Linked DNA regions of Homo sapiens. The protein of the gene in region 1 interacts with the protein of each later gene in a pairwise test. Each region holds a gene or a part of one and is shown on either strand. Other genes may lie near its edges. The genes, in order: ZNF398 and ZNF783.

Evidence for each region.
Region 2: the proteins of ZNF398 (region 1) and ZNF783 interact in binary tests that used the Homo sapiens proteins (3 or more experiments, as listed by UniProt).

What each region holds. Positions count from the first base shown.
Region 1 is NC_000007.14:149,158,403-149,174,656, forward strand, and holds part of ZNF398 (zinc finger protein 398), read left to right. Parts: intron 1-7,755; coding exon 7,756-7,882; intron 7,883-8,414; coding exon 8,415-8,528; intron 8,529-16,254. UniProt on the Homo sapiens protein: Functions as a transcriptional activator.
Region 2 is NC_000007.14:149,258,069-149,274,449, forward strand, and holds the start of ZNF783 (zinc finger protein 783), read left to right. Parts: upstream 1-4,127; 5' UTR 4,128-4,265; coding exon 4,266-4,289; intron 4,290-4,403; exon of another isoform or gene 4,404-6,442; intron 6,443-6,960; exon of another isoform or gene 6,961-6,999; coding exon of another isoform or gene 7,000-7,056; intron 7,057-8,266; coding exon 8,267-8,662; intron 8,663-8,750; coding exon 8,751-8,877; intron 8,878-9,028; coding exon 9,029-9,154; intron 9,155-16,381. UniProt on the Homo sapiens protein: May be involved in transcriptional regulation.

The DNA.
Region 1 (16,254 bases):
ATTTTTCTGTGAAGTGGGGTGGAGATGAGGAAGTACCTGGGAAGGATATTGGAGCCGTTTCTCATAGAGAACCTTCTCCATAGTACATTTTGTTTGTGCATCTGGAGCTCCTCCAGAAGTTCCTTGGGATAATTTAAATTTAGTATTCATGGCCTGGCGTGGTATCTCACACCTGTAATCCCAGCACTTTGGGAGGCCTAGGCAGGCAGATCATCTGAGGTCAGGAGTTGGAGACCAGCCTGACCAACATGGTGAAACCCTGTCTCTACTGAAAATACAAAATTAGCTGGGCATGGTGGCGCATTCCTCTAATCCCAGCTACTCGGGAGGCTGAGGCAGGAGAATTGCTTGAACCCAGGAGGCAGAGGTTGCAGTGAGCCGAGATCATGCCATTGCACTCCAGCCTGGGTGACAGAGCGAAACACCGTTTCAAAAAAAAAAAAAAAGAAAATTAGTATTTATTTTAAGAATAATAGTAAAGGTAAGTTAAAATTATTGTCTTATCTGGAATAAGTGGTTAACAGTTAAACTGTCCATCTTAGACTCTAAAATCATCTATAAAGTAATGTGATTTCCCTTAAAGATTTTTTTTTTTTGAGATGGAGTCTCCCTCTTGCTCAGGCTGCAGTGCAGTGGCGTGATCTCGGCTCACTGCAACTTCCACTTCCCGGGGTCAAACGATTCTCCTGCCTCAGCCTCCCAAGTAGCTGAGATTACAGGTGTGTACCACCACGCCTGGTTAATTTTTGAATTTTTAGAGGAACTCTGACCTCAAGTGATGCACCTGCCCTGGTCTCCCAAAGTGCTGGGATTACAGGTGTGAGCCACCGCGCCTGGCCATCTCTTAAATATTTCTTAATGAAATTAAAATGCATTTGATTCTAGTCAAAATGTATTAAAGATTTACTAAATTGAAATATGAGAAACTTTTGTGTCCTTGCTTTGTTGAAAATGCTCTTTTTCGGCTGGGCGCGGTGGCTCACGCCTGTAATCCCAGTACTTTGGGAGGCTGAGGCAGGTGGATCATGAGGTCAAGAGATCGAGACCATCTGGCTAACATGGTGAAACCCCGTCTCTACTAAAAATACAAAAAAAATTAGCCGGGCATGGTGGCGGGTGCCTGTAGTCCCAGCTACCCGGGAGGCTGAGGCAGGAGAATGGCGTGAACCCGGGAGGTGGAGGTTGCAGTGAGCTGAGATCGCACCACTGCACTCCAGCCTGGGCTACAAAGTGAGACTCCGTCTCAAAAAAAATGCTCTTTTTCTGCTCTTAAATTTGAATGCCAAGTTCCAGGTCCAAAATAACTTTTCCTCAAAAAAAAAAAAAATTTTTTTTTTTGAGATGGAGTCTCACTCTGTCTCTGTTAGAAAGATGGAGTGCAGTGGCACAGTCTCCACTCACTTCAGCCTCCACCTCCCAGGCTCAAGCGATTCTCGTGTCTCAGTCCCGAGTAGCTGGGACTAAAAGCATGCACCACCATGCCTGGCTAATTTTTGTATTTTTAGTAGAGATGGGGTTTCCCCATGTTGGCCAGGCTTGTCTCGAACTCCTGACCTCAAGTGATCCTTCTTCCTCAGCCTCCCAAAGTTCTGGGACTACAGGTGTGAGTCACCGGGCCCAGCCAGTGTGAAACTTTGATACATTTGTATAAAGTGTAATGATAAAAGGAGGATAATTAGCTGATTAGCATATCTATCACCTGAAGCATTTATCATTTCTTTGTGTTGGGAACACCAAAAAAATCCTCTTTTCTAGGCCAGGCGCGGTGACTCACGCCTGTAATCCCAGCACTTTGGGAGGCCAAGGCGGGCGGATCACAAGGTCAGGAGATCGAGACCATCCTGGCTGACACGGGGGTCTCAACTAAAAATACAAAAAAGTAGCCAGATGTGGTGGTGGGGGCCTGTAGTCCCAGCTACTTGGGAGGCTGAGGCAGGAGAATGGTGTGAACCTGGGAAGCGGAGCTTGCAGTGAGCTGAGAGTATAGACCAGTTTATACTAGGAAGTGGGATTCTCTTCTGCATATGGCCATTCCCTACATGCAGTCTTAACCCCAGTGAGGCAGAATTCACAGTCCTCCTCTGAATGCACTCTTCAGTTTCCTTCACTTGAATGTTTTCTCCATTCCCATTAGGACTAGCCAAAGTCACATCTCTTTTTGAGTCATGCCAGCCCCATGTCTTGTCCATGTCATTCATTTGCAGATAGTCATATTCCCCTTTGGGGCAGAAACCATATTTTAGTTATCTCAATGCTTAGGGAAAACCTTGTATGTAGTGGATACTCAGAATATTTTCTTGTGTGAATTAAGTATGCTTTGCATTTGTATCTAACTCTGAGTAACTCTGAGTCCTCCACCCTCCAGAAGCTCACAGCTTTAGATTATCACCTTTCTTCTTGAAATCATTGTGAACTCCTAGAGATTGGTCTGTGCCTTATTTTTCCTGTATCCTTTCAGTACCCCATATAGTTTTCTCAGTCAGGAGGCACTTAGTAAACAGTAAAGATTTTTAGACTGAGGGGGCTAGAGTGGGGGCGGGCTGCTGGCTGAGGTGGTGTCTCTGCTCTGCACCCCAAGGAGGCCTGTCAGGAGGAGGTGGGCTTTCCCCAACGCTGCCCTCTTGACCCTTGGAGCTCTCCCAGGATTCCTCAGATTTCCCCAGCGCCCCTTTGGCACTGTGTCTCCTCCTCTTTGCCCTGCCTTCTCCCTGTCCCACCACCACCTCCTCACCCTGTCTATCCCTCCTCCTCTTTGCTCTGGCTCCTTGCCACCAGGATCTTTTCCTAACTTTTTTCTTTCCTAGTAGAGACAATGGGCTGACAACCTGACTTCCAAAAAATATTGAGGAAAGGCAAAAACTAGTTTTTAGGCCAGGTGTGGTGACTCAAGCCTGTAATTCCAGGGCTTTGGGAGGCTGAGGTTGGAGGATTGCTTGAGGCCAGGTGTAGGACACCAGCCTGGGCAACATAGCCAGACCCATCCCTACAAAAATTATGTTTCTAAAGATTGACTCGCCATAGTGGCATGTCACTTCCTGACTCGTCCCAGCTACTCAGGAAGCTGAAATCGGAGGATGACCTGAGCTCAGGAGGTCGAGGCTATAGTGAGCAATGATCACATCACTGCACCCCAGTTTGGATGACAGAGTGAGACCCTGTCTTAAAAACAAGCAAAACAAAACAAAACCAAAACCAAAAACAACTAGTTACCAGATTCTGAATGCCTAACATACAAGCATACAAGGTGGCAGGATGAGTACATAAAGTCGCAAAAAGTACTCAAGTGCCTATTAAATGAAAAGCAAACATACCAGGAAAAACTTCAGCTCCTGCTTGAAGAACTAAGAGGGGAATTAGTAGAAAAGCTAAGGACTTAGAAGAAATGAAGCTGCAGGTAATTAACTCCAAAAAAAAAAAAAAAGGGGAATTGTTAAAAGCCCAAATACAGCAAGAATTAGAAACTCCAGTGTTTTTGCAATTGGGATGAAGAAGTGGAAAAGTATAGAGCTGCAAGCTTTGCTATAAACATACATTTCTTAAATAGAATCTGAAACACTAGGAAGAAGAATTTACATGTAGTTTAGAAAAAAACTCTAAAATTTGAATTAGAGATTTATTTTTATTTTTACTTATTTATATATTTTTCAAGACAGGGTCTTGCTCTCGCCTGGGCTGGAGTGCAGTGGTGCTATCTTGGCTCACTGCAGCCTTAAGGCTCAAGTGAGACTCTTGACTCAGCCTCCCGAGTGGCTGGGACTACAGGTGTGCATTACCACAGCTGGTTAATTTTTTTTTTTGAGTCGGAGTCTCGCTCTGTCGCCCAGGCTGGAGTGCAGTGGCGCAGTCTCGGCTCACTGTAACCTTCGCCTCCTGGGTTCACGCCATTCTCCTGCCGCAGCCTCCCGAGTAGCTGGGACTACAGGCGCCTGCCACCACGCCTGGCTAATTTTTTTATATTTTTAGTAGAGACAGGGTTTCACCATGTTAGCCAGGATGGTCTCGATCTCCTGACCTCGTGATCCGCCCGCCTCGGCCTCTCAAAGTGCTGGGATTACAGGTGTGAGACACTGTGCCTGGCCCCACAGCTGGCTAATTTTTAAATTTCTTTATACAGACAGGATCTCACTATGTTGTCCAGGCTGGTTTCGAACTCCTAACCTCAAGTGATGCTCCTGCCTTGGCCTCCCAAAGTGCTGAGATTACAGGCATGAGCCAGTGCACCTGGCCTGAATTATAGATTGCAAGACTGGGGAAAGATGTAGAACTATATAACCAGCTGCTTAGTGTTGATCCCACAAGAGGCAACAAATGAGTAGAGGAACTTGTTTGAGAAAAAGTCCATTTGTTTCAGAAATTAAAATAATTCATAGGCTGGCTGGGCACAGTGGTTCACGCCTGTACTCCCAGCACTTTGGGAGGCCGAGGTGGGCAGATCGCCTGAGGTCAGGAGTTTGAGACTAGCCTGGCCAACATGGCAAACCCCTGGGTGGGGGGAGGGGGGCGGCGGAGGTTGCAGTGAGCTGAGATCGTGCCATTGCACTCCAGCCTGGGCAACAGAGCGAGAGTCTGTCTCAAAAAATATATATATATTCATTCAGAGGCTGAAGTAGCAGATTTAACGGCTGAAAAAGAGAATTCTGGTGCTCAGTTAGAAAACGTCCTAAGAATACAGGTGTGACAGTTGGCTGAGATGCAGTTACAGTCAGGTCCCAGTAGGCCAAAAATGTCACGTAAACTGTAGGTTAAATGCTCGGAAAAAGAGCCACAATCAAACAATGAACAAAATACCTGTTTTGTTTGTTTGTTTGTTTGTTTTTTTCAGACAGAGTTTCACTCCTGTCGCCCAGGCTGGAGTGCAGTGGCGTGATCTCAGCTCACTGGAACCTCCGCCTCCCAGGTTCAAGCGATTCTCCTGCCTCAGCCTCTTGAGTAGCTGGGATTACAGGCATGCGCCATCATGCCCAGCTAATTTTTTTTTTTTTTTTTTGAGATGGAGTTTTGCCCTTGTCGTGCAGGCTGAAGTACAATGGTGTGATCTCGGCTCACCGCAACCTCCGCCTCCCGAGTTCAAGCGATTCTCCTGCCTCAGCCTCCCAGGTAGTTGGGACTACAGGCCTGTGCCACCACGCCCCTGGCTAATTTTGTATTTTTAGTAGAGACGGGGTTTCTCCATATTGGTCAGGCTGGTCTTGAACTCCCGACCTCAGGTGAGCCACCGCGCCCGGCCAAGCCCAGCTAATTTTTGTGTTTTTAGTAGAGACAGGGTTTCGCCATGTTGGTCAGGCTGGCCTCAAACTGCTGACCTTGGGTGATCCACCCGCCTTGGCCTTCCAAAGTTCTAGGAGCCACTGCGCCTGGCCAAAGTACCTTTTTAATCATTAAAGATTACATAAAACTGAACAAGAAAGAAATACCCTGACCAGGCTGGGAGTGGTGGCGGTGGCTCACGCCTGTAATCCCAGCACTTTGGGAGGCTGAGGTAGGTGAATCATTTGAGGTCAGGAGTCGAGCCCCACCTGACCAATATGGTGAAACCCCGTGTCTACTAAAAATACAAAAATGAGCCAGGCGTGATGGTGTGCACCTGTAATCCCAGCTACTTGGGAGGCTGAGGCAGGAGGATTGCTTGAACCCAGGAGACAGAGGTTGCAGTGAGCCGAGATAGCGTCACTGCACTCCAGCCTGGGTGATGGAGCAAGACTCCATCTTAAAAAAAGAAAGAGGGCCGGGCGCAGTGGCTTGAGCCTGTAATCCCAGCACTTTGGGAGGCCGAGGCGGGCAGATCACAAGGTCAGGAGATCGAGACCATCCTGGCTAACACGGTGAAACCCCATCTCTACTAAAAATACAAAAAATTAGCCGGGCGTGGTGGTGGGCGCCTGTAGTCCCAGCTACTTGGGAGGCTGAGGCAGGAGAAGGGCGTGAACCCGGGAGGCAGAGCTTTCAGTGAGCCAAGATCGCACCACTGCACTCCAGCCTGGGTGACAGAGCAAGACTCCGTCTCAAAAAAATAAAAATAAAAATAAAAAAAGAGAAAGAAAGAAATACACTGAGCACTAAAGTCAAAGAACGAAACTTTCAAGCATACTAGAAATAACAGCCATGAAACTAGAGGCAGCAAGAGTGAGCTAGAAAGGGAAAGGAAAAAGATTCAAAGTGAACTGGATGGTTTACTGTCAGACAATGAAATTCTGAGACCAGCTATTGAACACCACAAAGTGCCCTTAGTAAAAAAAGATCATATATTAATATGTAAGGCACCAGATGCCAAGGAAGAAGGTTGTAAAAGACTTCTGGCATTACAGGATGAAAAGCTAGAATTTGAAAACAAGTTAGCAGATAGAAAATGAAAGTGGATCATGATGTCTGCAAGCAATGTGAAAAGCATCAGTGTGAAAAGAAATTGTGGGAGGCCGGGCACGGTGGCTCACACCTGTAATCCCAGCACTTTGGGAGGCTGAGGCAGGTGGATCACGAGGTCAGGAACTCGAGACCAGCCTGACCAACGTGGTGAAACCCCATTTCTACTAAAAATACAAGAATTAGCGGTGTGTGGTGGCGGGTGCCCGTAATCCTGGCTACTTGGGAGGCTGAGGCAGGAGAATTGCTTGAACTCGGGAGGCAGAGGTTGCAGTGAGACGAGATCGCGCCACTGCACTCCAGCCTGGGTGTACAGCGAGACTCTGTCTCTAAAAAAAAAAAAGAAAAGAAAGAAAGAAAATGCAGAGGAAGAAAAAAACGAAAATTTTGACCTGGAATAGTAAATCAGTAGTTTTCAGATCCAAGTTACCTCACTTGCAGAGTTCGAACCGAATGCTGAAAGAAACGATGGAGACATTAAAACAGGAATGCTGAAATATAAGAAATCAAGCTGAGAAAGTCTAACTAGAAGTCAAAAAGACATTGGAAAAAGAACAGACACAGCAGTTAGAAGAAAAGCATATGCTTCATGAATGTATCTCAGGGAAATGTACAGTCAAGCTAAAGAGAAATTGCAGTGAGCTGCAGTTGCCCAGAAAAACAGGAAATCTTGCCGTGAAAACAATTGAAGAGATGGCAGGACAAGGTGTAAATCTTGGAGGCAGGTAGAGAAGAAATGGAAACAGAAAATTGGGTTTTAAATAGACAAAATGTTCCATTTGAAGAATGTACAAAGCTTCAGAAAAGACTAAAGGATACACACAGAAGACATAATGAATTTTGAAGTTTAATTTTGGTTCCTAACATGCCTCCAAAATCAATCCTGTTTGCTCTCAGTCATCAGCCATGGTATTATCCTTTCCTCCTCATGTGCACGATGAACAGCATCAAAGGGAACTCTGTACTTGGCAAAAGACTAGAGGAACTAGAAACAACACAAAGAAAACAAATAGAGGAATTTGGATCTCCTGGAGAGTGATGTTCTTAGAGAAAAGGCATTTTAAAAGAGGTGAAATCAAAGACTCAATAAAGCTTGAAGTTTTAACATACATGGTATTTAGATATTTTATTACTGCTTACCAAAATACTCGAATGTGCCTCAAGAAAAGGTACCAGCTTTATTTAAGGGACTCGTGCTGTATTGCATGAGTACTAGGATTTTAGGATTTTCTAATGACAAGTGAAGCATTAAAAGAAACCATTTCAGAGATATTTAGAATATTTATTGACCACCCTTTGAAAATGTAAAAAAAATAAAAGGAACTAATTGGAAAGAGATTTATTGAATGACTGAATTATAATGGAAGGGACTAACCCATGTGATTGTAATTTTAGGTGCCTGTGGCATTTGATGATGTCTCCATCTACTTTTCCACTCCAGAGTGGGAAAAATTAGAAGAATGGCAAAAGGAACTTTACAAGAATATCATGAAGGGCAACTACGAGTCTCTCATCTCCATGGGTGAGGCTGAGTTGACACCTTTTGAATGAAGTGACAGCAGCTCCAAGAGGGCTCAGAACAGTCCCTTTTCCTCCAGTGACCTCATTCTCACTCTGTCTTCACACACTTCAAATTCTGGTTTCAAGCCAAAATATGACCAATTAATGCTTGCTAACTAGGAATCATAATCTCTCTTTTTACCAAATTGTAGGACAGAGAATGAAGTTCAGGGTTATGGGTGTGACAGCTGGTGGTTTCCATGGGTATCCTTCACTTGGAAAGGAGCTTGACTTCTCCCCCTTGAGGCACACTGTCACTCTGAAAGCAGTGCTAACCTAGCACATGTGCTTTCCCCACACATTACATCTCCACTGCCTGCTTTCCTGAATAGATATCCACAGCTGAAGATGGATAGATGGGAAGAAGTGATATGAAATCTAAAAGAAATTCCCTGGCACTGTGACCACAAAGCTTCAGCTCAGCCTTGATGGCAATTAGTTGTCATCCTCATTTATCTCTTTGTAATACTCTCTCTTCCTTTTTCCTCTCCTAGATTATGCTATAAATCAACCTGATGTCTTATCTCAGATTCAACCAGAAGGGGAACATAATACAGAGGACCAGGCAGGGCCAGAGGAAAGTGAGATTCCCACAGACCCCAGTGAAGGTAAGTGGGAGAAGAGATTCCTACTTCTTGTCTCCCTTTCCTGGTCAGACATGGTGGCTCAGAGCTAAGCAGGGCTTAGGGGCTTCTAGAGCCATTCATTGCTAAAGCAACTAGATTTTGAATGTGTCATCAGGCATTTAAATATAAAAGGGAGCTTAGAGGTCACCTTGTCCAGTGTCTTCACCTATCAGTACTACACACCTAACAGTTACAAGTTGCATTTCCTGACAGAAGTACTGACACCTAGCTGTTTAATAAAATAAACATGTCCTTACATGATGAAGGAGGCAGTCATGCTCATCTGGACTAAATTGGCTTGAGCAAATATAAGCATGGCCCTTCATAAGTGCTGAAGGGACTAGGAGTCTGCATGGTCCCTCTAAGATGCATGGAACCAGTAGACACTGATGACATCCACCTGGGCAACATGGATTTTCTCAGGTCTGGGAAGCTGGCTATCATGAACTCTTCCTAACTTTTTGGTTGGCAGCTGCTTAACATTGTGTGGGAAAGACTGCCAACCAAAGTCCAGTTTTATTGTTTCTCTCATGCCTCACCTTGCTGTCAGAAAATTCTCATACACTTTTTTGTTCTTTGATGGATAGAAGCACACAGAAAGTTGATCCTCCGGGCATCTCTATTATATGAACTTCTCTTACAACCCACCCGCTATCCCATATAGTTATTTTTTTCTTTTTCTTTTCTTTTTTTTTTTTTTTTTTGAGACGGAGTCTTGCTCATGCGATCTCGACTCACTGCAAGCTCCGTCTCCTGGGTTCACGCCACTCTCCTGCCTCAGGTTCCCAAGTAGCTGGGACTACAGGCGCCCGCCACCACGTCCGGATAATTTTTTCTATTTTTTAGTAGAGATGGGGTTTCACCATGTTAGCAAGGATGGTCTTGATCTCCTGACCTCGTGATCCACCCGCCTCGGCCTCCCAAAGTGCTGGGATTACAGGCCTGAGCCACCGCCACATTTATTTTTTTCTAACATTTTATTATGAAAATTTTCAATCAGAAAAGTTAAAATATTTTTATAGTGAACACCTGGATATCCAGCGCCTAAATTCTGCCACTAACATTATACCATCCTTCCTTATCATGCATATATCTATCACTGCATCACTCCATCCAGCCATCCGTCTATTATTTATTTATTTATTTTGGAGATGGAGTCTCACTCTGTCGCCCAGGCTGGAATGCAGTGGTGCGATCTTGGCTCACTGCAACCTCCACCTCCTGGATTAAAGTGATTCTCTGGCTCAGCCTCCTGAGTAGCTGGGATTACAGGTGCCCACCACCACGCCTGGCTAATTTTTGTATTTTTAGTAGAGACAGGGTTTCAGCATGTTGGCCAGACTGGTCTCGAACTCCTGACCTCAAGTGATCTGCCTGCCTTGGCCTACCAAAGTGCTGGGATTACAGGCATGAGCCACCGCACCCAGCCATCTATCCTATTTTTGATGTATTTCAAAATCAGTGAAGACATCAATGCATTTTCCTGTAAATAGTTCAGCATGAATATTATTAACCTAGAGTTCAATATTTGTTTTTTTCTTTTCAGGTAAATTTTACATATAATGAAATTTCAAGTCTTAATTGAGTTTTAAGCAATGTACACATCTGCCTCACATTTATTATTATTATTATTATTTTGAGATGGAGTCTCACTCTGTCGCCCAGGCTAGAGTGCAGTGGCGTGATCCTGGCTCACTGCAACCTCCGCCTTCCAGGCTCAAGTGATTCTCCAGCCTCAGCCTCCTGAGTAGCTGGGATTCCACGCCCGGCTAATTTTTGTGTTTTTAGTAGAGATGGGGTTTCACCATGTTGGCCAGGCTGGTCTTAAACTCCTGACTTCAAGTGATCCACCCGCCTTGGCTTCCCAAAGTGCTGGGATTACAGGAGTGAGCCACCACGCCCGGCCATATTATTTTTTAAGAATGTGTAGGTGATTGCATTTAGTCAGTGTAACACGTTGCATTTTACTAATCTTTATATCACAGATATAAGTAATGAGGCTAAAATAATACCACCAATAAAGATGAGTGACTTGACTACAGAAAGATTTCTTATTGGGTATATTTCTTTGGTCTACATTATTAGTTATCTGTCATAGACCTCAGCAAGTACAAATGAATATATCATTGTATTTTATGGGATGGGTGAAAAAGATAACAAGTAATTAGGTTTTGTGATAACGTATCAAAGTTTCATTTTGCTGTTATCTTGTCAGTTTGTTTTTACCATGGGTTTTCAAGATGCTCATGCCTCAACCCCCTGAGTAGCTGGGACTATAGGCATGTGCCACCATGCCCAGCTAATTTTTGTATTTTTAGTAACGATGGGGTTTTGCCATGTTGGCCAGGCCGGTCTTGAACTCCTGACCTCAGGTGACCCACCCACCTCGGCCTCCTAAATTGCTGGGATTACAGGCATGAGCCACCGTGCCTGGCCTGTTATTTTCTGTTGGTTGATCAAATTGTCAGCTTCACAATTTCTTTCGTTTGTTTGTTTGTTTTTAAGACAAGGTCTGGCTCTATTGCCCAGGCTAGAGTGCAGTGCCATGATCAGAGTGCAGTGCCATGATCTGAGATCAGTGCAGCCTGTGCCTCCTGGGCCCAAGCCATCCTCCCATCGCAGCCTCCCAAGTAGCTGGGACTACAGGCACACACCACCATGCCTGGCTAATTTTTGTATTTTCTGTGGAGATGGGGGTTTGCCATGTTGCCCGGGCTGGTTTTGAACTCGTGAACTCAAGTGATTCACCTGCTTCGGCCTTCCAAGGTGCTAGGGTTACAGGCCTGAGCCACCACACCCAACCTCAGTACTTGTTTTCTTAAAAAAAAATATGCTCCTGGCTCTGTTGGAGGGCCCAAAGACCACTCCCAGATTTCGTGATCTGCTAGGAGGACTCACAGGATTCCCATATGGTTGTACTCACAGCAAGATTTGTTAGAATGATACAAAGTAATATCAGCAAAGGGAAAAGGTACCTGGGACAAAGTCTGCAGGAAACCAGGGACAGGCTTCCCAGAGTCCTCTCCCAGTGGAGTCTTATAGGATATGCTTAATTGTTCCAGTAATGAGTTGTAACAACCAGAAAAGCTCATTAGAGACTCAGTGCCCAAGGTTTTTATTGGGGGCTAATCACATGCATACCCTCTGTCTAGCACTTACCCAAATTCCAGACTCATAGAAGGAAAGCACGTGTTCTGCATATACCACACTGTTTGACAAACACAATCATGCGCTGCTGAACAATGGGGATATCTTCTGAGAAATGCATCATTAGTTGATTTTGTCATTGTGCAGACATCACAGCGTGAACTCACACAAACTAGATGATGTAGCTTTCTATGTACCTAGGCTATATAGTATAGCCTATTGCTTCTAGGCTACAAACTTGTACAGCATATTATTGTCCTGAATACTGTAGGCCATTGTAACACAATGGTAATTGTGTTTGTAAACACATGTAAAGATAGGAAAGGTACAGCAAAAATCTGGTGTAAAAGATACAAAATGAGCTGGGCACAGTGGCTCATGCCTATAATCCCAGCACTTTGAGGCCAAGGCGGGTGGATCATGAGGTCAGGAGATAGAGACCATTCTGGCTGACACGGTGAAACCCTGTCTCTACTAAAAATCCAAAAAATTAGCCAGCCATGGTGGTGGGCGCCTGTAGTCCCAGCTACTCGGGAGGCCAAGGCAGGAGAATTGCTTGAACCCAGGATGCGGAGGTTGCAGTGAGCCGAGATTACACCACTGCACTCCAGCCTGGGCAACAGAGCGAGACTCCATCTCAAAAAAAAAAATACAAAATGGTACATCTCTATAGGGCACTTGCCATGAATGGAGCTTGCAGGACTGGAAGTTGTTCTCACTGAGTCAGTGAGTGAATGTGAAGGCCTAGGACATTACTAGGCTGTAGACTTTATAAACACTGTATACTTAGGCCACACTAAATTTATAGAAACATTTTTTCTTTTTTTTTTTTGAGCCTCCTGGGTTCAAGTGATTCTCCTGCCTCAGCCTCCTGAGTAGCTGGGACTGCAGGCACGTGCCACCACGCCCGGCTAATTTTTTTTTTTTTTTTTTTAGAAGAGATGGGGTTTCACCATGTTAACCAGGATGGTCTCGATCTGCTGACCTCATGATCCACCTACCTTGGCCTCCCGAAGTGCTGGGATTATAGGCATGAGCCACCGCGCCTGGCCAAGAAATTTTTTCTTTAACCATAAATTAACCTTAGCTTACTGTATTACTTTATAATACAGTAATATACTTATAATACTACTTTATAATATAGTAATATACTTTTATTATTTTATAACTTTCTGACTTTTGTAATAACACTTAGTGTAAAACATATTGTACATATATACAAAAATATTTTTTCTTTATACCCTTTTTCTATAACTTTTTCCTATTTTTAAATTTTTTTACTTATTTTTTTGAAATGAAGTCTTGCCCTGTCGCCCAGGCTGGATTGCAGTGGCGCAGTCTCCGCTCACTGCAACTTCTGCCTCCTGGGTTCAAGTGATTCTCCTGCCTCAGCCTCCCCAGTAGCTGGGATCACAGGCATGCTGCGCCCCCACGCCCGGCTAATTTTTGCATTTTTATTAGAGACGAGGTTTCACCATGTTGGCCAGGCTGGTCTCAAATTCCTGACCTCATGATCCACCCGCCTCTGACCTCATGATCCACCTGCCTCGGCCTCCCAAAGTGCTGGGATTTACTTTTTATTATTTATTTATTTTGAGATGGAATCTTGCTCTGTAGCCCAGGCTGGAGTGCAGTGGTGTGATCTTGGCTCACTGCAACCTCCGCCTCCCAGGTTCAAGTGATTCTCCTGCCTCAGCCTCCCAAATAGCCTGTAGGCTCAAACCACCACACCTGGCTAATTTTTTTATTTTTTTATAGAGATGGGGTATAGCCATGTTGCCCAGTGTGGTCTCAAACACCTGGACTTAAGTGATCTGCCTGCCTTGGCCTTCCAAAGTGCTAGGATTACAGATGTGAGCCACCATGCTCGACAGTGGCCTGTTTTTGACCAAAACACCATTATGCAGTGCATGACTCCATGTGTCTTGCTCAAAACTGTCCTTATATTCAGCACAAATATAAACCTTTGTACTACTATACAAATGTTACATGGTACGTGACTGCAGTTAGGTACAGCCAACCACTCATCATTTAGGGGAAGTTTTGTATCAGCATAGAGACTACATACAGTAGTCCCCCTTTATTGATGGTATCGTTTTCCACAGTTTGTTACCTGCCGTCAACTGTGATCTGAAAATATTAAATGGAAAATTCCAGAAATAATTTATAAGTTTTAAGTTTGCCATTCTGAGTAGTATGATGAAATCTTGCACTATCCTGCCCTGTCTCATCTGGGGCGTGAATCATCCCTTTGTCCAGTGCATCCACACTGTATACGCTACCTGGCCATTAGTCACTTAGAAGCTATGTCAACTGTGGCAGTATTGCAGTGCTTATGTTAAGTACCCCGCGCTCCCCCCCTTTTTAAAAATAAATAATTGCCCCAAACTGCAAAAGTAGTAATGGTGGCAATTCAGATGTATCAGAGAAGCCGTCAAGTGCTTCCTTTATGTGAAAAGGTGAAATTTCTTGACTTAATAAGGAAGGAAGGAAGTTACATGCTGAGGTTGCCAAGATCTCTGGTAAGAACAAATCTTCTATCTGTGAAACTGTGAAGAAAGTAAAAGAAATTTGTACTAGTGCTACTGTTGCACCTCAAACTGCAAAAGTTACGGCCACAGTGTGTGATAAATACTTAGTTAATATGGAAACAGCATTAAAGGCAAGTACAGGCATCTCCAGGATATTGTGGGTTCAGTTCCAGACTACTGCAATAAAGTGAATATCACAGTACAAGTAACAATAACTTTTGTTTTCCCAGTGCATGTGAAAGTTAAGTTTACACTATGCTATACAGTCTATTAAGTTGGCAATAAATTATGTCTAAAAAAACAATGTACATACCTTAATTTAAAAATATTGCTAAGAATCCTAACAATCATCTGAACCTTCAGAGTCATAATCTTTTTGCTAGTGGCGGGTCTTGCCTCAGTATTGATGGCTGCTGACTAATCCGGGTGGTGGTTGCTAAAGGTTGGGGTGGCTGTGGCAATTTCTATTTTTTTTTTTTTTTTTTTTTTTTTTTTTGAGACAGAGTCCTGCTCTGTCGCCCAGACTGGGGTGCAGTGGCACGATCTCGGCTCACTGCAACCTCCGACTCCTAGGTTCAAGCAATTCTCTTGCCCCGGCCTCCTGAGTAGCTGGGATTACAGGCGCCTACCACCATGCCTGGCTCATTTTTTTGTATTTTTAGTAGAGACGGGGTTTCGCCATGTTGGCCAGGTTGATCTCGAACTCCCGACCTCAGGTGATCCACCCGTCTCGGCCTCCCAAAGTTCTGGGATTACAAGCGTGAGCCACCATGCCTGGCTGAAATATGTTTATTTATTTTTTTGAGACAGAGTCTAGCTGTGTCACCCAGGCTGGAGTGCATTGATGCTGAAATAAATTTCTTATGCAATAAGACTTCAAAGTAAAAATTACTCCTTGATCTGCGGGGCTGTAGAATGGATGTTGTTTTACAGGGATGAAAACAACACTCATCTCCTTGTTCATCCCCATCAGAGCTTGTGGGTGACCAGGTGCGTTGTCAATGAGCACTAGTATTTTGAAAGGAATTTTTTCTTCTGAGCAGTAGTTCTGAACAGTGGGCTTAAAATATTCTGTAAACCGTGCTGTAACAGATGTGCTGTCATCCAGGCTTTGTTGTTCCATTTCTAGTGCACAGGCAGTGTAGATTTAGCATAATTCTTTTTTTTTTTTTTTTTTTTTTTTTGAGACACAGTTTGGCTCTTGTTGCCCAGGCAGGAGTGCAATGGCGCTATCTCGGCTCACCGCAACCTCCGCCTCCTGGGTTCAAGCGATTCTCCTGCCTCAGCCTCCTGGGCAGCTAGGAAATACAGGCATGCACCACCACGCCCAGCTAATTTTGTATTTTTAGTAGAGACAGGGTTTCTCCATGTTGGTCAGACTGGTCTCAAACTCCTGACCTCAGGTGATCCGCCCGCCTTGGCCTCCCAAAGTGCTAGGATTACAGGCGTGACCCACCATGCCCGGCCTGATGTAGCATAATTCTTAAGAGCCCTAGGGTTTTCAGAATACTAAAATGAACACCGGGTTCAAGTCACCAGCTGCATCAGCCTGTAACAAGAGAGTCAGCTTGTCCTTTGAAGCCAGACATTGACTTCTCTCTAGTTATGAAAGTCCCAGATGACATATTCTTCCAATAGAAAGTTGTTTCTCATACATGAAAATTTGTTGTTTAGTGTAGCCCCCTTCCTCAAGTAATTGTAGCTAGGCGCGTGCCACCACAGCCAACTAATTTTTGTATTTTTAGTAGAGACAGGGTTTTACCATGTTGGTCAGGGTGGTCTTGAACTCCTGACCTCGTGACCTGCCCACCTCAGCCTCCCAAAGTGCTGGGATTATGAGCGTGAGCCACTGTGCCCAGCCCATTCAGAAAATTTTTAAAAACAAGCAGGTAAGTGTTTTAAAAGTCAGGTTTTTTGGCTAGGCATGGTGGGTCATGCCTATAATCCCAGCACTTTGGGAGGTTGAGGCAGGTGGGTCACCTGAGCTCAGGAGTTGAAGAACAGCCTAAGCAACATAGTGAGACCCCATC
Region 2 (16,381 bases), 94 kb from region 1:
CTCATCCATTTCTTTCATTGAACAAATACATATTGAGTCCCTGTTATCTAGACACTATTTTAAATACACATCAATGAAAAAAAAGATCTTTGCCCTTATTGAGTTTATGTTCTTTCAAAATCAGTTTTCTTCCTTTACTGCACCTTTGCACAGCCCTTTCCTAGGTGAGGACAGTATTCCATTCTGCCTTAGAGTTTGTTCACTCACAAATATCTGAGTATCCTCCCTGTGCAGAATTCTACAGAGGGGTACAGGGATAAATCTTGCTCTTGGACTTACAGGCTACTAAGGGAATATAAGATAGAATAGTAATGTCTTCAGATAAGTGAGGGTAAAAGGCTTTAAGCATTCAGAGAACAATTATTTTAGATGTGAGACATTAGGGAAGACTTCGTGATAGGTGGTATTTGAACTGGCCTTTTAAGGATGGGAGGAAGGACATTCTAAATGGAGGTGACATGACCAAGTCAGGAGACATTATGGGACATGTACAGAAGAGGAGTTCATCCAATTTCGGGAGGGTGGAGTGTGAGAAGGAGAGTAGTGGGTGTTAAGAGTTGGGTCAGGCTTCAAGGAGTCTGGATTTTATTCGGTTGATAATGGGGAGCTGAAGAATTTTGAGCAAAAGAGTGACCTGATTCTAGCTGTGATTTGGGAATACTAATAAGAATTATACTGTGCTTTTTGGGGGGTGTGAGGTTTGGGATATGTTAGAAGGTTTCAAGTGAGATCAAGGAAGAGCCAGTGAGGACCTACCTGATTGGGTGCAGCTGCAGTGGGAAGGGAACAATAGATAAGACCAAGAAACAGTCACAGGATGTGATGCTGTGGGAATGGAGGGACCATTTTTTTTTTTTTTTTTTTTTTTTTGAGACGGAGCCTTGCTCTGTCGCCCAGGCTGGAGTGCAGTGGCGCCATCTCAGCTCACTGCAAGCTCCGCCTCCTGGGTTCAGGCCATTCTCCTGCCTCAGCCTCCCAAGTAGCTGGGACTACAGGCGCCTACCACCACGCCCGGCTAATTTTTTGTATTTTTAGTAGAGACGGGGTTTCATCGTGTTAGCCAGGATGGTCTTGATCTCCTGAGCTCGTGATCCGCCCGCCTCGGCCTCCCAAAGTGCTGGGATTACAGGCGTGAGCCACCGCGCCTGGCCTCAGGAGGGACCATGTCTTACTCCTATCAGCCTCCACAGCTCTCAGCACAGGTGCTTGGCACATAGGTGCTCAGCAAATGTTTGCTGAATGAGAAAGTATAATGGGTGTTCACAGAATAGAGAGCTGGGTGTTGTCTGAAATAGAGAAGGCTTCTATGGAGGAAGTGGGATTTGGCTGTACTTCTGGTCTCCCTCTACTAATGCTTCCGTTCCTAACATCTTTATAATTCTGTGTGGGTCCACCTCCTAATCTAAATTACATTCCTGGCTTGGAGGATGAGGGAGCCACAGGAATTCTGTCTCTGACCTGCCACTATCTCTTGGCTGAGGATGTTCTGGTGGGGACAATGGCACTTGAGTGTGCTGACCTCTTGTTGAGTGACCCTGGGTACTACTTTGGTGGCCCTCAAATTGTGACAACCCTACCTTCTGCAGGTGGAGTCACCCTTGTTACTCCACGGACTGGGCCTCCACTGGATGTTGTCAGTTCACCCAGAGATAATCAGGTCCTGGAAATCTGATCCCCCAAAAAACAAACTCACAAGAGACAGATTAACAATTAAAGATGAATGTAGGCTGAGCGTGGTGGCTGATGCCTGTAATCCCGGCACTTTTGGAGGCCGAGGTGGGTGGATCTCCTGAGGTCAGGAGTTTGAGACCAGCCTGGCCAACATGGTGAAACCCCGTCTCTACTAAAAATACTAAAAATTAGCCTGGCATGGTGGCAGGAACCTGTAATCCCAGCTACTCGGGAGGCTGAGGCAGGAGAATCTCTTGAACCTGGGAGGTGGAGGTTGCAGTGAGCCGAGATCGTGCCATTGCACTTCATCTTGGGCAACAAGAGCGAAACTCCGTCTTAAAAAAAAAAAGCCACCATGTAATTTTAATTTATATCAGAGCTGGCTTGACACCCCGGCTGGTCTGCTCAGAAACCACATTATGGTGCAAAGTGTTCGTTTATTAAATATATTTATAAAATCTGAGCATGGGAATGGGAGGTAGCTGTGGGACCCTGATAAACAGTGCCAAGGTTTTCGAACTGTGATCACCAGACCAATAGAATCAGCATTTCTTGGGAACTAGTTAGAATTGCAAATTCGCATCACTTTCATCCCCTCCTGTTTCAGACCTAGAAATGTTGAGGTTTGTGCCTAGCATCCTGTATTTTTAACAAGAACCCTCAGTGAACATGATGCACACTGAAGTTTGAGTACCACTGACTTAGAGAAACTTTTTTTCTAAAAAACGAAGACTAGCTGTCAAACATTATAGCACTCTTTCCTCAACAGAGCTCATTAAATCCTAGCATTTTTGTCTCCAGCCCATTTTCCTGACCCTTTCTTTCTTTCTTTTTCTTTTTTTTTTTTTTTGAGATGGGGTTTTGCTCTTGTTGCCCAGGCTGGAGTGCAATGGCATGATCTCGGCTTACTGCAACCTCTGCTTCCCGGGTTCAAGCGATTATCCTGCCTCAGCCTCCAGAGTACCTCACCACCACACCCAGCTAATTTTTTGTATTAGTAGAGATGGGGTTTCATCATGTTGGCCAGGCTGGTCTCGAACTCCTGACCTCAGGTGATCCATCCGCCTCAGCCTCCCAAACTGCTGGGATTACAGGCATGAGCCACGGCTCCTGGCCCATTTTCCTGACCCTTTCTGTTTGCATTGGACCTTAACTGTTATTCTATAACGTCACCATTTACTGGTATTTTATAATCCTGAATAGATTGGACTGATCCCTGATAAGATCCTAGGGATGCTCTTAATGTCTTTAGTGCATACTTGCAGTTTGTGTTTTAGATTGGGATAGTTCAACAAGAATTTCCAAAATGAATAATGCCAAATATTTATTTGATTTGTTACCTTAAAGTAACACGTCCTAACCTTTCCGCAAATTTTGGGGTTCACCTTACTTAGGATATCAGTTTGTGTTTTTTCTGATAGTTGACCACGCTTTTGCTTGGCTCAAATATTTGTGAAAATAACTTCTCACCCTCACCCCCCCCCCCCAAAAAAGAAAAAACAAAACCAAAACCAAAAAACCCCAAACAAACCCAAACACAGAAAGAAACAAAACTGCAGATTTCTAGCGGGAAGAGTTTGCCAGCTTGTTGGACAAAGACTGTGAGATGAATGGGAAATGCAGAAAAGACAGAAAACAAAGCTTCAACTGCATACAGCACATTTAGTTCAATATGCCTCAGCACAGGCCGAGGAAAATGGGTCCTGCGGTTTATTCAAGATGCCTCAGGGCCTAAATGAGGGATGGACTGATTCACACTTGCTGTGATCTCAGCCTGGACCAAAGCTACAGAAGGGTCCTCGTGGGTGGCTGAGGACTTTCACCAGGCGGGCCCCGGGAGGAGGAAGGGACCCCAGAGTCCTCAGGAGGGGAGGGCAGGCTTAGGAAAAAAAAAAAAAAAATCCTACCATCTTCACGTTTGTTCTGTCAAATTTAAAAGAGACTTTAAAAACGTTCATGTAAGTTTCCCTGGCTTCTCCCTGGGTACACACGTATCCTTTTTACTTTCCCCAACTCAGTTCTGTGGTGCGTGGGAGGCGCTGCAACAGAGTCTCGGTCCGGACTGGAGCCCCGGCGAGGGCCGACCCCGTTCCCCACGCAGCTTTCCCTCGCGAGGTTTCGCACTTTCCAGCGCGGTTCCTTCCCGCAGCCCTCCCGGCTCCCGCGTGGGACGCAGAGAGAGGTTGGGCGCCGCGCTGGCCCGGGAGTGGCTTACGCCTGACGTAGCCCCGCTGGAGGCCGTGGCACGCCCGCCCTGGCGTCAACTCCCGCGCCCCGGGTGAGGGTGGGTGGCCGCGCCTGGGTCCCGGACGCCGCGGGCGCTGAAGGCCTCGGGAGGGCGCGGGGCGGCGGCCGCGGGCGTGCGGTCCTACGGGCTGCAGGGGGCGCTGTGCGCGTCCTCAAGCTCGGCCGCCGAGCGCAGCTCTTTTTTAAAGGGCCAGCGGGGCACGTGGCTCGGGACGCAGTTCGCTGCCGCCCGGCAGTAGCTCTCAGGTTAGGCGGGTCCCGCTCCGCTTCCGCCGTCGCTGCCGCGCCGCCCCGGGCCCGACAGGCCGGGTCCAGGGACTGCAACCCAGCGAGGGACGCGGGCAGCCATGGCCGAAGCGGCGCCTGCCCGGGTAAGCGCCCTCGGCCCCGCGGACGCCCGGAAGGCCCAGGCCGCCGCCGCGTGAGCCCGCGCGAGGGACTCTGGCCGCGCGAGGCCGCGGGGTGAGAGGGCCTTGCGCGCAGCCTCCGCGCTCGTTGCCCCCGGCCCATCGCCCAGCCCGCGTCGAAGGCATTGACCGGGCGGCCCAAATGCCAGGCCCGGCGGGCGGGGCCCCGACGTCAGCGGCTGACGATCCGGCCCATCTGCGGCCTCAGCCAGGCCGGGCCCCAGAGTCACGCTCGGCGACGAGGAGGCCGCGCCTTAGGAGTATTGTCCCATTTGAGGCCTCGCGGCCCCCCCTACAGCAGGCTGGGCGGGCAGGGGCCGCCAGCCCCACGGGACAGTAGCGGAGGCTGAGATGGGAAGGGACAGGCCCAGGGTCACGCATCTATTAGAGGCGGGAGCCTCACGCCGGGGCAGGGATTTTGGAATTAGACACTTTAAAACGCCTCATATTCTACTTTTGCCAAAGAGAAAGATTGTGTCGTTTACAAGAGAGATAGTAGATTTTTTTAAAAAAGATTACTGTAGCAGATTTTATTTAATTTTTTTTTTTGAGAGGGAGTCTCGCTCTGTTGCGCATGCTGGATGGAGTGCAGTGGCACGATCTCGGCTCACTGCAAGCTCCGCCTCCCGGCTTCAAGGGATTCTCCTGCCTCAGCCTCCCAAGTAGCTGGGACTACAGGCGCCTGCTACCACGCCTGGCTAATTTTTCTATTTTTGGTAGAGACTGGGTTTCACTATGTTGGCCAGGCTGGTCTCGAACCCCTGACCTCGTGATCTGCCCGCCCCGGCCTCCCAAAGTGCTGGGATTACAGACGAGAGCTACCGCGCCCGGCCATTTTAAAATTTTTTAATTAAAAAAGTATATATATATACGTGTGTGTGTGTGTGTGTGTGTGTGTGTGTGTGTGTGTGTATATATATATATATATATATTTTTTTTTTAGACACAGTCTCACTCTCACCCAGGGTGGAGTGTAGTGGCGGGATCTCATCTCACTGCAACCTCTGCCTCTGCCTCCCGGGTTCAAGGTATTCTCCTGCCTCAGCCTCCCAATCCCAAGTAGCTGGGATTACAGGCGCAGGTGCCTGTCTCATTTATATCTATCTATCTATCTGTCCAGATACATATCTATATGAATAAGTTTATTCATAAGAATACACTATAAGTATTCCTATACAGAATTTTTCTCCTGGAGAAGGAAGAATCACATCAGTTTTTTTGGCATCTTCATCTATATAAGTTAGGCCAGTTTAGCAGATTTTAGAATCTTGGTTTGATATAGTGCAGTATGTCCAATTGGGAGATTATAATCCTTTGGCCATTTTTGACATACTGGAAAACGCTTGTAAAGGCTCAATAGATGATACCTACTATTATTAATACACCTCAGTGAAGGTTTTGAAACCTTGATTTTTCTGGATACTTTTATTAAAGTATAACTTCCTCTCCCTCCTCTTAGTGAGTGTGCTGAGCTTCTTTTTGGGTTCCCTGAGTGCAAGGGAGAGAAAAAGCGTTGAGGATTCTGCAGGTTTATAGTCCTGTTCCCTGGGAAGAGGGGGCCCTAGAAGGTGACATCATCCACTCCCCCTAGCCTGGGGCTCACTGCTTCACTACCTTTCAGATCACTCCTGTCCACCTGCTCCTCCCTTCTTGCAGCACTTGAGATCCCAAAAAACTCCCCAAAAGGGACAGATTTGCCCTGGACTCTTGTTAGCCCATCCTATCACACTGTTGTTGTTTATAAGTATTCCTATACAGAATTTTTCTCCTGGAGAAGGAAGAACCACATCAGTTTTTTCTTCATCTTCACTGTACATTTACTATGATAGGTGTTCAGTAATTGTTATTGAATGAATGAAGCAATTATAGATTACTAGTGCTAAGGGGGAGGGGCAGTGAAAATCTCTAGGATGCGTTGTCTATGCTAGAATCTTAAAAACGAGAGAGACTCAGGCATACAGAGGATGCATATTGAGAGCTGATGTGAAGTTGGAGGAGGGCCGGGTGGGTCCTCGGAATCCACAGGAGGCTGGCATGGCTGGAGCACGACAGGAACTGGATGGCTCAAGGTCAAGAGAGGTCGGCTGGGCCATGAAGAAGTCTAGATCTTATGCCAGGTACACTGGGAAGCTATTGAAGAGTTTTAAGCAGGGTACTGAAATGATCTATTTGTGTTTTTAAAAGATTACCAGGCCGGGAGCAGTGGCTCACTGACTCACGCCTGTAATCCCAGCACTTTGGGAGGCTGAGGCGGGCGGATCACAAGGTCAGGAGTTTGAGACCAGCCTGGCCAATATGGTGAAAGCCTGTCTCTACTGAAAATATAAAAATCAGCTGGGTGTGGTGGCGGGCGTCTGTAGTCCCAGCTACTTGGGAGGCTGAGGCAGGAGAATCGCTTGAACTTGGGAGGTGGAGGTTGCAGTGAGCCGAGATTGCGCCACTGTACCCCAGCCTGGGCGACAGAGCAAGACTCCGTCTCAAAAAAAAAAAAAAAAAAAAGATTAACAATTACTCTGTGGAAAGTGTATTGTCGGGGAGAAGCCTGGAAGTAGGGGAGAAGGCTGGAAGTGGGGGAGAAGGCTGGAAGTGGGGGAGAAGGCTGGAAGTGGGGGAGAAGGCTGGAAGTGGGGAAATCAGGTGGGCAGGACCGCAGTGGCCCAGGCCAAGCAAGGTGATGGGAACTTGGACTAGACACTGGCAGTGGAGAAGGAGAAACATGGATGGATTTGAGGTAATTTTGGAAGTTAGGACCTGATGGTGATTTAACCATGAAGGATGAATGAAATTGAGGAGTGAGATGTTGATTTGTCTCTCCAACAAGGCTTTTAGCAGCACCAACCAGGACTGTGCCCATTGCGCATGCACAATGAGGGCTTGTGAATCAGATACCAGGGTAAGCTGAGGCACTTGAGAAGCTTTTTCCAAGGCACTGAAGGACAATGGAATAAAAGAGGTGGAGGTTAAAAAAAAGGCCATATGAACTATTTATACCATATCCCTGAGCTGGAACCATCACCATAATCACTGTCATTGTCTCAGTCTGCTCAGGCTGCCTTGGTTCCCGGCAGGGCTCTTTTCCTGGTTTGCAGACGGCTGCCTTCTCATTGTATCCTCACGTGGCATACAGCAAGATCATCTCCCTTGTGTCTCCTCTTACAAGGGCGCTAATCCTATTTATGAGGGCTCTGCCTTCATGGCCTAATTGCCTCCCAGAAGCTCCACCTCCAAATACCGGCATATTGGGGATTAATGCTTCAGCAGATGGATATTGAGGGAGACACAAGCATTCATTCCATAGCAGTCAGTGTCATCTTAGCCCTGCAACATGGGGCTCATGTTTATTATCTGTGCTGTGCTACACATTGTACTAAGTGCTTTGTACACAGATTTTTCTTAATTCTCTCAGTGCTATTGTATAGGTACTATTATTATCTCCATTTTCTAGATAGGGAAGGGAAGTTGGAAGCTGTTGAAAACACCTTGCCCACAGTTGGCCAGCTTGTAAGTGGCAGAGCTGAGTTGCACCTGGGCTGTCCACTGGGGAGTCATGTTCTCTGTGCCACAAAGCCTTGTCCTTTCATTTTTAGAAGAGGAAACTGAGACCCAAGAAGGGGAGTCACTTGTTTGAGACTGCACGTGGTTGCTCAAGCCTGTGGGGCATGCCCCGTCTCCATAGCTAGCCTGTAGGACAGGAGCCGGGGCTGTTTTTCTTCCACTTTCCCACTTGCTGACACGTTGGTCCAGCCACTATCTCTTGTATCAGTTAGGCTGGATTCCTAACTGATACCCTAGCCTCTCCCTCTCCCCCCCAGTCTGCTGCTAACTCAGGAGCCCAGATGGGACTTTACCATGGCAGGTGTCATTTCCGAAGTGTGTTTTTGAGGTGGAAGTTTTGATTGTATAATTCTCATAACATCTCTCTTTTCTCTTCTTGTGAGCAGGACCCCGAGACAGACAAGCACACAGAGGACCAGAGTCCTTCGACACCCTTGCCCCAGCCAGCTGCTGAGAAGAACTCGTACCTCTACTCCACGGAAATCACACTGTGGACGGTGGTGGCCGCCATTCAGGCCTTGGAGAAGAAGGTGGATTCCTGCCTGACCCGCTTGCTGACTCTGGAGGGGCGCACGGGGACAGCCGAGAAGAAGCTGGCCGACTGCGAGAAGACAGCTGTGGAGTTCGGGAACCAGCTGGAGGGCAAGTGGGCCGTGCTGGGGACCTTGCTGCAGGAGTACGGGCTGCTGCAGAGGCGGCTGGAGAATGTGGAGAACTTGCTGCGCAACAGGAACTTCTGGATCTTGCGGCTGCCCCCGGGCAGCAAGGGGGAGGCCCCCAAGGTAGCACCGGGACACCCTGGGGTGGGGGAGCTCGAGGGGCTGAGCCTGTGAGCGTGTGGGTGAGTGAGTGCGACACTTATGGTTCCAGGTGCCCGTGACCTTCGATGATGTGGCCGTGTATTTCTCTGAGCTGGAGTGGGGCAAGCTGGAGGACTGGCAGAAGGAGCTCTACAAGCACGTGATGAGGGGCAACTACGAGACGCTGGTCTCCCTGGGTAAGGCCACGGAGGGAGGATCTGGGCCTCTGTCCACAGGTTGTCTGTGGACAGTCTGTGTCTTTGCTTTGGCTTTTGGTACTTTGGGCATCTCTGCATCTCTGTGGGCATGTGGGGTCCAGCTCTTCCTCATTTCTTGTTCTGTGCACAGATTATGCAATCTCCAAACCAGACATCCTCACCCGGATAGAGAGGGGAGAGGAGCCTTGTCTTGACCGGTGGGGCCAGGAGAAGGGGAATGAAGTAGAGGTGGGACGTCCAAGGATGATGGGCACTGGTAAGTATAGGAGCCAGATGTGGTTGGGGGGCCGCCAGGGGCTAGCTGCACCATCGCCTACCCTCTCGGGCTTCCCAGACAATCAGGGAGGGCAGGAAGGGAGCATAGACCATTAACCCAAAGTGGGACCACTCTGTACAAGGCCACCCTGGGCAGGAGTGGGTGGCTGGCTTGAGCCATAGGGTTTCTATATCTGTCTAAGGTGGAACATCACACTCACCTTACGTGGTTGTGATGACTGAGTGATAAGTGTTAAGCATGTACATACTGATCACTTTATAATAGTGGAGACTGGCCTGGCGCGGTGGCTCACGCCTGTAATCCCAGCACTTTGGGAGGCTGAGGCGGGCGGATCATGAGGTCAGGAGATCGAGACCATCCTGGTTAACATAGTGAAACCCCTTCTCTAGTAAAAATACAAAAAATTAGCCGGGCGTGGTGGCAGGCGCCTGTAGTCCCAGCTACTCGGGAGGCTGAGGCAGGAGAATGGCGTGAACCCGGGAGGCGGAGTTTGCAATGAGCCGAGATTGCGCCACTGCACTCCAGCCTGGGTGACGGAGCAAGACTTCATCTAAAAAAAAAAATAATGGGGACTTAGTAATACCTCCACCAGCAGCACTGCTGCCTCCTGGCATCTTCACGTGTGTCCATGTCCCCGCTATTGCTTGTGTCCCCTATTGCAGTCCCACAACCCCAGCCTGTGGCAGGAAGGCATGTCACGTGCTGGCTTCCATTTGTGTACATGGCCCTTGGTAGGAGGGCCAGGCATGCCCTGTCCTTGTAGCTGGTATATAGGACAGTGGTTCCAAAGGGGACTGCACATCACAATCCTCTGGGGAGCTTTATTTTTTCAATTAAATTTTAATAAAGTAGAATAGCACAGCGAATCTCCAAATGATCGTCACCAAAACTCAACACTCTGCTGGGTTTTGCCACATGCGCTTCATCCATCTGTTTTTACCCTTTTCCTGAACAATGACCACATACCATGATCACACCCACAGAATATCAGAATATCATCTAATACCATCTAATACCTAGCCTTTGTTTTGTTTTCCCTAGTTGTCTCAAAAATGTTTTCTATGGGTCTTTGGATCCTAATTGTAATACACCCAAGTCCACATTTTACATTTGGTTTACGTCTCTGAAGTATATTAAAAAAACTTATGACAATCCCCCCAGTCTTTTTCAACAGCTTTATTGAGATATAATTCATATACTATATAATTCACCTGTTAAAGTGTACAATTGAGTACTTTTAAAAAAAATTTCAACTTTTAATTTGGATATAGGCATACACCTGCGGGTTTGTTACATGGGTATATTGTGCCCAGGTAGTGAGCATAGTACCCAAGCTTTTCAATCCATTCTCCTCTCTTTCCCTTCCCCCTGTAGTAGTCCACAGTGTCTATTTTTGCCAGGTTTATGTCAATGTGTGCTCATTGTTTAGGTCCCAGTTATAAGTGAGAACATGCAATATTTGGTTTTCTGTTCTTGCATTAGTTCACTTAGGATTATGGCCTTCAGCTTCATGTTGCTGCACAGGACATGATTTCATTCGTTTTTATGGCTATGTAATATTCCATGGTGTATATGTACCACATTTTCTTTATTCAGTCCACCACTGATGGACACCCAGGTTGATTCCATGTCTTTGCTATTGTGAATAACATTGTGATGAACATACGTGTGCATGTATATTTTTGGTATAATGATCTATTTTCCTTTGGGTATATACCCAGTAACAGGATTGCTGGGTCAAATGGTAGTTCTGTTTTAAGTCCCTTGAGAAATCTTCAAACTGCTTTCCACAGTGGCTGAACTAACTTACATTCCCATCAACAGTGTATAGGCATTCCATTTTCTCTACAGCCTCACCAGCATCTGACGGTTTTTGAGTTTTTAATAATTGCCATTCTGACTGGTGTGAGATGGTATCTCATGGTTTTGATTTACATTTCTCTGATGATTAGTGATGGTGAGCATTTTTTCATGTTTGTTGGCCGCTTGCATGTCTTCTTTTAAGAAATGTCTGTTCATGTCCTTTGCCCATTTATTGCTTGTTGATTTAAGTTCCTTATAGATGCTGGATGTTAGACCTTTGTCAGATGCATAGTTTCCAGATATTTTCTCCCATTCTGTAGGTTGTCAGCTTACTCTGTTGGTAGTTTCTTTTGCTCTGCAGAAGCTCTTTAGTTTAATTAGGTCCCACTTGTCAATTTTTGTTTTTGTTGCAGTTGCTTTTGAGGACTTAGCCAAAAATTCTTTGCCAAGGGCAATATCGAGGAGGGTATTTCCTAGGTTTTATTCTAGAATTTTTATAATTTGAGGTCTTACATTTAAATCTTTAATCCATCTTGAGTTACTTTTTGCATATGGTGAAAGGTAAGGGTCTAGCTTCATTCTTCTGCACATGTCTAGCTAGTTACCCTAGCAACATTTTTTTTAAATTTTATTATTATTATACTTTAAGTTTTAGGGTGCATGTGCACAATGTGCAGGTTTGTTACATATGTATACATGTGCCATGTTGGTGTGCTGCACCCATTAACTCGTCACTTAGTATTAGGTATATCTTCTAATGCTATCCCTCCCCCCTCCCCCCACCCCACAACAGTCCCTGGTGTGTGATGTTTCCCTTTCTGTGTCCATGTGTTCTCATTGTTCAGTTCCCACCTATGAGTGAGGGCATGCGGTGTTTGGTTTTTTGTCCTTGCGATAGTTTGCTGAGAATGATGGTTTCCAGCTTCATCCGTGTCCCTACAAAGGACATGAACTCATCATTTTTTATGGCTGCATAGTATTCCATGGTGTATATGTGCCACATTTTCTTAATCCAGTCTATCATTGTTGGACATTTGGGTTGGTTCCAAGTGTTTGCTATTGTGAATAGTGCTGCAATAAACATACGTATGCATGTGTCTTTATAGCAGCATGATTTATAATCCTTTGGGTATATACCCAGTAATGGGATGGCTTACCCCAGCAACATTTATTGAATAGGGAAGGGAGTCTTTTCACCATTGCATTTTTTTTAGTCAGACTACAGGTGCACGCCACCATATCCGGCTAATTTTTGTATTTTTTCGTAAAGACAGAGTTTCACTATATTGCCCAGGCTGGTCTCAAACTCTTGGGCTCAAGCAGTCCACCTACTTTTGCCTCCGAAAATGCTAGTCAGCTTTTTTAGTTACCCTGAGATTCAGTCTGCACTGAAAAGGCAGAATGGATGCTTAATTCTTTCCTTTATCAGTTTCAGAATGAATGAAGAGTTGCTGCCTTAGTAGCCTCCAAAGGTGACCCATGACTTGGGCTTCTTTTTTTTCCTGAGTTAAGTTATTGTGACTTCACAGATAATTGGATATTTCATATGTGCTAGGCCTTTGCAGCCATGATTTTCCTGCTTAAACTGTCCCATCTTTAGCTAGTGGGAGCCTCTTTTTTAAGTTGGCCCATAGGTTATTCTGATGTGACCTCAGTGGCTTTCAGACACCATAAGGTGTGCCAGATTTATGTGTGTGCTTCCTGCTCCAGACCTGGAATCAAAATGTCTCTGGATTTTTGATTTCTATTGGTGAGGAGTGGTATTTAGAGATTACAATGTGAGTGTTAATTGTTGCTGATTTTTGGCACTACTTCTAGGCCTGTTCAGAAAATACATATTTTTGGAAAGAAAAAAGAAATCATGAGTTTATACATTGATATTTCTAATTCAAATTTAATGTTCTTTGGTTTTTTTTCTTGAGACGGAGCCTCGCTCTGTCGCCCAGGCTGGAGTGCGAGCTCACTCACTGCAAGCTCCACCTCCCGGGTTCATGCCATTCTCCTGCCTCAGCCTCCTGAGTAGCTGGGACTACAGGTGCCCGCCACCACGCCTGGCTAATTTTTTGTATTTTTGGTAGAGACGGGGTTTCACCGTGTTAGCCAAGATGGTCTCGATTTCCTGACCTCATGATCTGCCTGCCTCGGCCTTCCAAAGTGCTGGGATTACAGGCGTGAGCCACGGCGCCCAGCCTGGCTCTTTGATTTTATATTGTTTATCACTTTCCTTTTAGGTGGCAATCTTAAATTCTCAACGAAATTTGCATAATTTCTTAAATGATCTTATATCCAGTCCTACCACTTCATTATCCTATAATTTATCTTACAATTTCAAAACAGTGAAGCCATAATACTATTAACAATTAGACTTCCATTGAAATACAAGATTTCTTTGCAGTTCTTTTTGTCCTCTGTATACATTCTATGCAGGACTTATGGGCAAAATAATGCCTTTTAAAGTCACTTGAAATATTTTCTCTATGTAGTTATGTCACCAGCTTGGTATACAGTTGCATTCATTTGTGTATTTTTAGATTTTTTATTGATTATTCTTTTTGGTTTTTGATTTAACTTAATTTTTTGAATATGTAAGATATTTTATGTTTGCGAAGTCAAAATGATTTAACAGGGTAGATTCAAGGAAGTCTCGTTTCCATCCTTGTGGCCTCTCACTATAGATAATCATCTTGATTCCTTTCTTATTTATACTACCATGTTTCAATAACACAGAGATATATTTGTATTCCCACCCCTGTCTTATTCAGTAGGTTGTGGAGATCACCTCATATGATTATGTACAGATCTTCCTCAGTTCTTCTGTGGATTCAGAATGTTCTGTGGTATGATAGTTTATTTAACAGTCTGTACCTTGGACATTTAGGGTATTTCCAGTATTTTGCTGATATAAATAATGCTGCAGGGAGTACGTTGTGCATAAATCAGTTCATGTTTTTGCCAACGTATCTTTTTTTTAAATTTATTTTTTGTGAGAAGGAGTCTCACTCACTCTGTTGCCCAGGCTGGAGTGCAGTGGCACGATCTCGTCTCACTGTAATCCCTGACTCCTGGGTTCAAATGATTCTGGAGCCCCAGCCTCTGGAGTAGCTGGGACCACAGGTGTGCGCCACCACGCCTGGCTAATTTTCGTATTAGCAGAGACGGGGTTTCATCATGTTGGCCAGGCTGGTCTCTAACTCCTGACCTCAAGTGATCTACCCTCCTCAGCCTCCCAAAGTGTTGAGATTACATATGAGCCACTGTGCCTAGCCCCAATGTATCTTTGAGATGTAATCCTGGAAGTTGGATTTCTGGGTCAAAAGGTAAATGAATATGTTATTTGGGGAGAATTTATCTCCAAATTCCCCTCCATAGGGCTCGTATCATTTGCATTCTCATCTGTGTTGTGAGAAAGGTTCTCATGCCAACAGAGGGCAAACTTGTAGGATTCTTTTCAGTGTAATAGTAAGAAGTCTGTCAGTGTAGTTTTAATGGCACCTCTCTTACTGAGTGTGGATGAGTTTTTTTTTTCCTTTAGAACTCTTTCTATTTTAATCTCTAATTTTTATGGGTACATAGTAGGTGTGCATATTTATGGGGTACATGAGATATTTTGATACAGGCATACAATGTGTAATAATGACCTCAGGGTAAATGGGATATTCATACCTCAAGCATTTATTATTTCTTTGTATTATAAACATTCCAATTATACTTTTAGTTATTATAAAATGTACAATTAAATTATTGTTGACTGTAGTCACCCTGTTATGCTATCACATGCTAGATCTTATTCATTCTATTTAACTATATTTTTTACCCATTAACCATCTCTACTTCCCCCCTCGCACCTTCCCCCAACCCTTCCCAGCCTTCAGTAACCATCATTCAACTTCTCTGTCTCCATGAGTTCAATTGTTTTACTTTTTAGCTCCCACAAATGAATGAGAACATGCAAAGTTTGTCTTTCTGTGCCTGGCTTATTTCACTTAACATGATGTCCTCCAGTTCCACCCATGTTGTTGCAGATGACAGGATCTCATTCTTTTTTTATAGCTGAGTATTACTCTATTGTGTATATGTACCACCTTTTCTCTGTCCATTTGTCTGTTGATGGACACTTAGGTTGATTTCAAATCTTGACTATTGTGAATAATGCTGCAGTAAACATGGGAGTGCAGATACCTCTTTGATACACTGATTTCCTTTCTTTTGGGTATTACTTAGCAGTGGGGTTTCTGGGTCACGTGGTAGTTCTGCTTTTAGTTTTTTTGAGGCACCTCCATACTGTTCTCCATAGTGGTTGCACTAATTTACATTCCCACCAACAGTGCACGAGGGTTCCCTTTTCTCCACATCCTCGCCAGCATGTGTTATTGCCCGTCTTTTGGATAAAAGACATCTTAACTGGGATGAGATGATATGTCATTGTAGTTTTGATTTGCATTTCTTTGATGATCGATTATGTTGAGCACCTTTTCATATACCTGTTTGCCATTTGTACTTTTTTTTTTTTTTGAGATAGGGTCTCACTCTGTTGCCCAGATGTGACAGGAGTGCAGTGGCACAATCAGAGCTCACTGCACCCGATTTCCTGGGTTCAAGCCATTCTCCCACCTCAGCCTCCCAAGTAGCTGGGACTAGAGGCATGTGTCACCACACCCAGCTAATTTTTGTATTTCTTGTAGAGGTAGAGTTTTGCCATGTTGTCCAGGCTGGTCTTGAACTCCTGGACTCGAGCAATCTTCCTGCCACAGCCTTCCAAAGCACTGAGATTAGAGGCATGGGCCACCATGCCCAAGCTGTATGCCATCTTTTGAGAAATATCTATTCAGATCTTTTGCCCATTTTTAATCAGATTATCTTTTAATTGGGTAATTAGATTTTTTTCCTATAGATTTGTTTGAGCCCCTTAGATATTTTGGTTATGAATCCCTTGTCAGATGGATAATTTGCAAATATTTTTTCCCGTTCTGTGGGGTGTCTTTTCACTTTGTTGATTGATTCCTTTGCTGTGCAGAAGCTTTTTAACTTGATGTGATCCCGTTTGTTCATTTTTGCTTTGGTTGTCTGTGCTTTAGGGTAGTACTCGAATCTTTGCCCAGAACAATGTCCTGGAGAGTTTCCCCAATGTTTTCTTGTAGTAGTTTGATAGTTCGAGGTCTTATATTTAAGTTTTTAATCTATTTTGATTTGATTTCTGTATATGATGAGAGATAGGAGTTTAGTTTTATTTTTCTGCATATGGATATTCAGTTTTCCTGGCACCATTTATTGAAATAACCATCCTTATTCCAATATATGTTCTTTTTTTTTTCCTTTTCTTTTTTTTTTTTCTTTTTTGAGACGGAGTCTCACTCTGTCACCCAGGCTGGAGTGTGGTGGCACAGTCTTGGCTCACTGCAACCT